2 linked regions of the Homo sapiens genome follow. The protein of the gene in region 1 interacts with the protein of each later gene in a pairwise test. Each region holds a gene or a part of one and is shown on either strand. Other genes may lie near its edges. The genes, in order: TMEM41A and FXYD6-FXYD2.

What was found.
Region 2: the proteins of TMEM41A (region 1) and FXYD6-FXYD2 interact in a two-hybrid assay, tested with the Homo sapiens proteins (one large-scale study listed by BioGRID).

The regions. Positions count from the first base shown.
Region 1 is NC_000003.12:185,488,935-185,492,724, forward strand, and holds the end of TMEM41A (transmembrane protein 41A precursor), read right to left. Parts: intron 2,824-3,790; coding exon 2,603-2,823; 3' UTR 667-2,602; downstream 1-666.
Region 2 is NC_000011.10:117,819,483-117,822,355, reverse strand, and holds the end of FXYD6-FXYD2 (FXYD6-FXYD2 read-through protein isoform 1 precursor), read left to right. Parts: intron 1-1,460; coding exon 1,461-1,497; intron 1,498-1,659; coding exon 1,660-1,684; 3' UTR 1,685-1,690; intron 1,691-1,983; 3' UTR 1,984-2,299; downstream 2,300-2,873. Other genes in the region: FXYD2 (sodium/potassium-transporting ATPase subunit gamma), read left to right, coding at 1,461-1,497, 1,660-1,684.

The sequences.
Region 1 (3,790 bases):
ACCTCCTTACCTGGCTCCCCTCTGGTCTCCTGTACTGTCAGTCCCCAGCTCCCAGTGTTGTTTTCTGATGCCGGCTCCCTCTCTGTATTGAACGGCAATGGGAACAAGAATGACTATCAAAGCAAACAAATGCATGGAATTAAACAAAAAGTGTACTTCACTGTTTTCTAGTCCTGTCTTTTTCTAAATGTACTGTTTGTGCCCTGAGAGCTGCCTTAATAATCTCAGCATTTGTCAGAACTTGAGGGAAAGGAAGACTTTCCATGACTGGGTTTCCTGCAGCCACAAAAAGCAGGTAATGGAGAAAGCTAGTTTCTGCGATTCTTGTATTTGACACAGCCACGAAAGGAAGGGGCAATCATCATTTTATTTGGTGACAGCCTCTTCTTGAGTATTCTGTAAAAGCTAGACTGGCACTCTGCTTCTTCCCTATGCTTTCCTGCTGCCCATCCGGTAGCTACTCCTGTTACTACTGACCCCACTATACAGGGAGCAGAGAGAGAAAATGAAGATGAAAATCTGGCTTCTGAGAAATTATTTTGGTAAGAAGCATTGAGAGTGGAAAGCTTAAAACACCATTTTGGACTGTCCAATTTTCAGCCAATCCTAATTCCCACTGGCAAAGGTAGTTGAAAGTTAGCAACATGTTCAAACAAGCACCACACAGAACACTTACATCCATTTATTTGGGAAATTGCTTCACCTGTAAACTCACAACTGATAAGGCACATTATTGCAAAACTGTCGGGGTGGAGGGAGGGAGGCAACTCTAAGGATCCTGAAAAGGGGCAAAGGGCACACACTTGCGATGATGTGGAAAACATGTTTCTCCTTCCCTCCCCCTACTCCAGAACACCAAAGGCCACAGTCTTCAAAGTCTGCTGCCTCCTTCCCCCACTCTCGTTATCAAGGCTTCTTTTAAAGAAACACGTTTTAAACAATGAAATCCTCGGTGTGAAAGGATCATACCATAACCAAAAACCATCACCTGGGGATGCACTCTTCCTATGGAACGTGAGTAATTCCCAAGAATTCATGTAGAACAAGAGGCATAGATTAAAGTCTTGGCAAGACTCTTGGCCAAACCAAATCATCAACCCAGCAGATGATGCCCAAAAGCAGCAGTCTGGTAAGTCCTGATGAGTTACTCCTGTGGGGTGCAGGATCACAGGGCTGGTCAGTTTAGGTGCCAAGGTCCTTCTGTCTTTGGAAGCATTAATCCAGGTCTGTAACAATTCTGTACTGCAGCTACAGGAAGTAATGACAGCTATAGGCCATTAAGATACAACACAACAAAGTTATCAGAAGCCAAGGTTTCCTCTTTGAATTAAAAGATAAATTAAAAGATACAATTGTTTAGTTACTCTAAGCAAATACAACAATGAAAAACATTCAGAGGGTATACTGCCTGATGGCCCCATATACTGAACCCATTCTCCTAGCATGACACAGAACGGATTCCTGCAGAAAGGACAGATAAAATGTTTGCCTGGTCATGATTCAGGTGAGTCAAGGGCCCTGCCCCATCCAGATGGGTAAGAATTTCTCCAGAACATATCCATGACATACAGCGTTTGCTCCATTCATATTTAATAGTCTGTTTGCAATCAGCTTAACTGTCAGGACATGCGATCATAAGGAGGTCTGACATACATGGTAATGTCAGTGTGTCTGAACACAAGAGCGTGACAGAAATCATCATGTATGTGAGCAACACGTGGAAGTCCTAGGCAGTTCGTCAACTTGTTTCACTTGGCTTATGAAGAGGTAGGTCATCAGCAAAGAAGTACAAAAAAATGCTCTTCAAGAGACTAACAGAAGATGAAGAGCGGTGTCAGTGATGTGAGTTCCCGTGTCATCATTGGTACTAAACATCCACAAAGATGCAACAGGAGGACATCTGTCCCAGCAGCCTGTCACTCTGCAAAAGCAGTACTCTGGACAAGGACAATCAGCATCTTCTCCCAAGGCAGCTCAGGGGCTGGCATGAGGCAAATACAACAGGCTATCCCGAACTCCTTATTAGACCACAAAATACAAACAGCATTTTCTTTTTTTCTCTTTTTTTTTTTTTTTTTGTCAAGACAGTGTCTCACTCTATCACCCAGGCTGGAGTGCAGTGGTGTGATCTTGGCTTACTGCAACCTCTGCCACCTTGGTTCAAGCAATTCTCCTGCCTCAGCCTCCCGAGTAGCTGGGATTACAGGTGCCTGCCACCACGCCTGGCTAATTTTTGTATTTTTATTAGAGACAGGATTTCACCATCTTGGCCAGGCTGGTCTTGAACTCCTGACCTTGTGAATCACCGGCCTCGGCCTCCCAAAGTGCTGGGATTACAGGCGTGAGCCACCGCGCCCGGCCACAAACAGCATTTTCTAGGAGGCATCTGTTGCAGTGTCTGCTACACCAGGGCTGGTTTGAAAACCTGATGTAATACACCTTCAAGAGCAGAGTGTCCTTTCTGAAAAGACACTGCACATTGATGCACAGTGTCCACATCACCTATAGAAGGCAATCAAAAACAATGAGGGGCTTTAGAGGACCACATCCATTACACAAATAAGCAACTGAGTCCAGGGATGTGGCAAACAGAAAATCCAGATCATGTGTCTTTTCTACTGTGTATATGATTAGCAGTACTTGTTTCATTCAATTGCAGATGTTTCTGACTAAATTTTTTAATGAGGGTTCCAGGAATTAATGCCACCATGGCAATGGCCAACAGCTTAAAGACAGTGTCCCAGGAGAAAAGAGCATCCAGAGAGGTTAGGGTTGACAGGATGGACCCTGTCTGCACACAGATGAAATTATATGGGATCAAACCTGGAAGAAGAAAAGGACAAAGCACCTGTTACAAGCAGCAGCAAAATTAAGAAAATAATAATTCAGAATGTCACCAGGAACAGTGACTACGGTTTTTTTTTGCTTGACTCTTGACCCTTATACATATTAACTCTTTCCCTTCTTTCCTTCTTTTCTATTATTTTCCCTCCTTTCCTCACTTCCCATATATGCCTGTCTTGTTCAACAAAAGAACTTGAGATATTTACACAAATAATACATGCTACTATAAGACAATTTTAAAATAGGGCCAGGAATGGTGGCTTATGCTTGTAATCCCAGCACTTTGGGAGGCCGAGGTGGATCACCTGAGGTCAGGAGTTCGAGATCAGCCTGGCCAACATGGTGAAACCCCGTCTCTACTAAAAACACAAAAATTAGCCGGGTGTGGTGGCATGTGCCTGTAATCCTAGCTACTCAGGAGGCTGAGGCAGGAGAATCACTGGAACCTGGGAGGCAGAGGTGGCAGTGAGCCAAGATCTTACCACTGCACTTCAGCCCAGGCGATAGAGCTAGACTCTGTCTCAAAAATAAATAAATAAATAAATAAAATTTTAAATAGGAAAAGCAAAATGCGTGCAGAAGAATACAAGACATCAGGGAGTACAGTTAGTAAAAAAATGCATAAGGTTCACCTGTTTGCCAAAAGTGGGCCCCAAATTTGGTTCTGAGTACCCAACAGCCAAAGTAAAGAGAGAAGTGCCATTGTTGACAAACAGTTTTTTAAAAGAAGTACTATTCACATTCTGTACTGTCTCAAAGATGTCATCAAATCCACTGGATTCCAAAAGTCTGGCTGGCTGAACAGGCTGGCTGCAGAACAATCAGCTGGTGACATTGTTAAAAAACCACATCCTTGGGCTCCACCCCAGAAATTCTGGGTACTTGGTTCTGGGGTAGTGCCCAGGAACCTGTATTTTAAAAGCCCCTTCTCCACTCCCACCCTGAG
Region 2 (2,873 bases), on another chromosome or scaffold:
CTCAAGGCCGCTGAGCAGGCTGGCTTTCGGGAGTTGCCAAGGGAGGGGTGAGCCTCCCCACCACGCCCCCCACTGCAGGATGTGGGAATGGGTGCCCGGTGGGGTGCCAGGCTCGCTGGGAGCACAGTGTGAGGTTCCTGCTTGCTCAAGTGCACCCTCCAGTGGGCCCGGGAGGAGCCGCAGAAGTGAGAGCAAACCCACGGGGTAACTGGGTAACCGGAGGGCCAGACAGGGGGACTAGGCCCCCCGCTGCTAACCATGGTCCCAAACTCATTTGTTAAATAGGGATGATCCCACCTGCCTCACAAGATTAGGGCTAGCATCCAAAGACATGGCAGTCAGGACAGCGCTCTGAGAACGGTCCAGTGCAGACTCGGAGTGTTCTGGGGGAGACAAAGAGAGTTATGTATCCTCAAGCCCCGAGGGGCACACAGCAGGAGCTTAATAACTGCACATTGACTTGTTTTGGTCCAACCCAAAGAAAAATACACAGAAAACACAACCCATGGAAAGAAGATACAGCAAGCACACCTGTGGGCTCTGGACTTCTAATGCACGTGTGCCACTGCCACCCCACCCCAAGGCTCGGGCCACAGTCCTGCGGGTCTCCCCATTTTCCCGTGTTGCCCATGGCAGCTCTCTCTACGTGTGCCACTGCCAGCCCACCCCAAGGCTCGGGCCACAGTCCTGCAGGTCTCCCCATTTTCACATGTTGCCCGTGGCAGCTCCCGGAGGGCAGTGCCGGGTGGCAGCTGATCACATAGGCACAGGAGGCAGGTGGCCTAAGCAAGGGGCTCCACTTTGGAGTTGCTGCCATCCTTCTCCAGGTGTTCATCGGGCAGCTGTGCTGGGGGCACCATGATGGCCCAGTCTCTGCTGCTACTCTCGATATGCCAACAGACCACCGTGGATCTGCTCCAGTAAATATTTGCTGACTGACTGACTGACTTAGGTTCTTAAATGCCTATGGTCCAGCCTTATATAAAGAGAGAGAAGGCTGGGCGTGGTGGCTCATGCCTGTAATGCCGGCATATTAGGAGGCCAAGGCAGGAGGATCTCTTGAGACCAGGAGTTTAAGACCAGCCTGGTCAATACAGTGAGACCCGATCTATACAAAAAAAAATTTTTTTAATTAGCTGGGCATGGTGACATGTACCTATAGTCCCAGCTACTTGGGAGGCTGAGGCAGGAGGATTACTTGAGCCCAGGAGTTTGAGGCTGCAGTGAGCTACGATCCCACCACTGCACTCCAGCCTGGGTGACAGAGTAAGACCCCGTCTCAAAAAATAAAATAAAATAAAATATAAAATAAAATAGAGACAGTCAAACGTGGCCTCCAAGCCTGACCCTGCGATGATACTGGCAGGAGGGAGGTAGGAGAGACTGGAAGAATTTTGAGTCTTCCAGGGTCTCCTTGGAAAATTAGTCCATGGAAACAAATCTCCTTTTCTCTTTTCAAGGCAGAAGATTCCGCTGTGGGGGCAATAAGAAGCGCAGGTGAGCGCTGCCTGGGGTGACCGATGAGGGGGTTGGGGCTGGAGAAGGAGGGGCGGGCTGAGGATTTTGTCTCTGACACAGTGGAGGATCCCCAGCCTCAGAGATCCCTAGACCCACCCCTCCCCCTGCCCTCTCACCTGTTGCTTTTCCTTCCCCCACCAGGCAAATCAATGAAGATGAGCCGTAACAGCAGGTATGCTAGGAGGGCCTGGGGAAGGTGCGGGGAGGGCAGGGCAGGCTTGGGAGCAACAGGGAAGAATTCTGGCTCCTGGACTCGGTAAATAAGAATTTTAGGGTCGTCCACACATCAGCCAGGTGGTCTGTCACCCATCGTGTGTTTAAAATGATGGCCAAGGGCCTGGCGTGGAGTGTGTGCCGCAGGAGATCACAGAGGAGCCCTGGAGAAAAGTGAGATGGACAAGGGGGAAGTAAAACCCCAACCTCTGCTGCCTCCCACCCAACCCCATCCTGCCTTTGTCTTCTCAGCCTCGGCGGTGCCACCCACTGCACTGGGGCCAGCTGGGAAGCCAAGCATGGCCCTGCCTCTGGCGCCTCCCCTTCTTCCCTGGGCTTTAGACCTTTGTCCCCGTCACTGCCAGCGCTTGGGCTGAAGGAAGCTCCAGACTCAATGTGACCCCCAGGTGGCATCGCCAACTCCTGCCTCGTGCCACCTCATGCTTATAATAAAGCCGGCGTCAGAGACCGCTGCTTCCCTCACCTGCCTGCCTGTCTCCCTCCTCTGTCACCACCAGCCTCTCCAAGCTCAAGTACAAATACAGCCGGGTCTCATTTGTTTTTTCAATTAATTGCTCAGGCACCTGTCTGCCTGTAAAAGCAAGAAGTTCAGTGTTGTCATCTGTAGGCCACTCCTCACACCCCTTGAACTGGCAGAAGCCCTGGGGACAGAGGCCTCAGCCTGGCTTTTATACACCTGGGAAGTCTGAAAGGCCCAGAGGTCAAAACCACAGCCCATTGGATACCCATGAGGCCTCTGCCCCAGGCACCACTGTTGGGTTCCTGGAAGCGACCCTGCTTAGCAGTTGCTGTGGAGAGGCCCCAGGCTACCAAGATGGGCCTCTGTGTGGTCACATTCCTGTGCTCTGCCGTTTTCCATATGTACCCCCCTGGGCCAAGGTGGGTGGGTCCGGGGAGCCTGGTGCTGGGCCTCTGCACATGTCCTGAAGGAGCCAGCCCTCTTCCCAGCCCCCTCCTGGTACTAAGCTCGGGCCACCTCTTTCCACTCTTGGGGCCACCTATTTGGAGGGTTGGTTAATTCCAGGGCCTGGGGCCAGGGAACAGATGGTGAGAGTGAGACCACTGTCACACTTGCTCCAGCCCCCGTCCATGCAGGCAGGGACCCACCCAGGGCAGCCTCA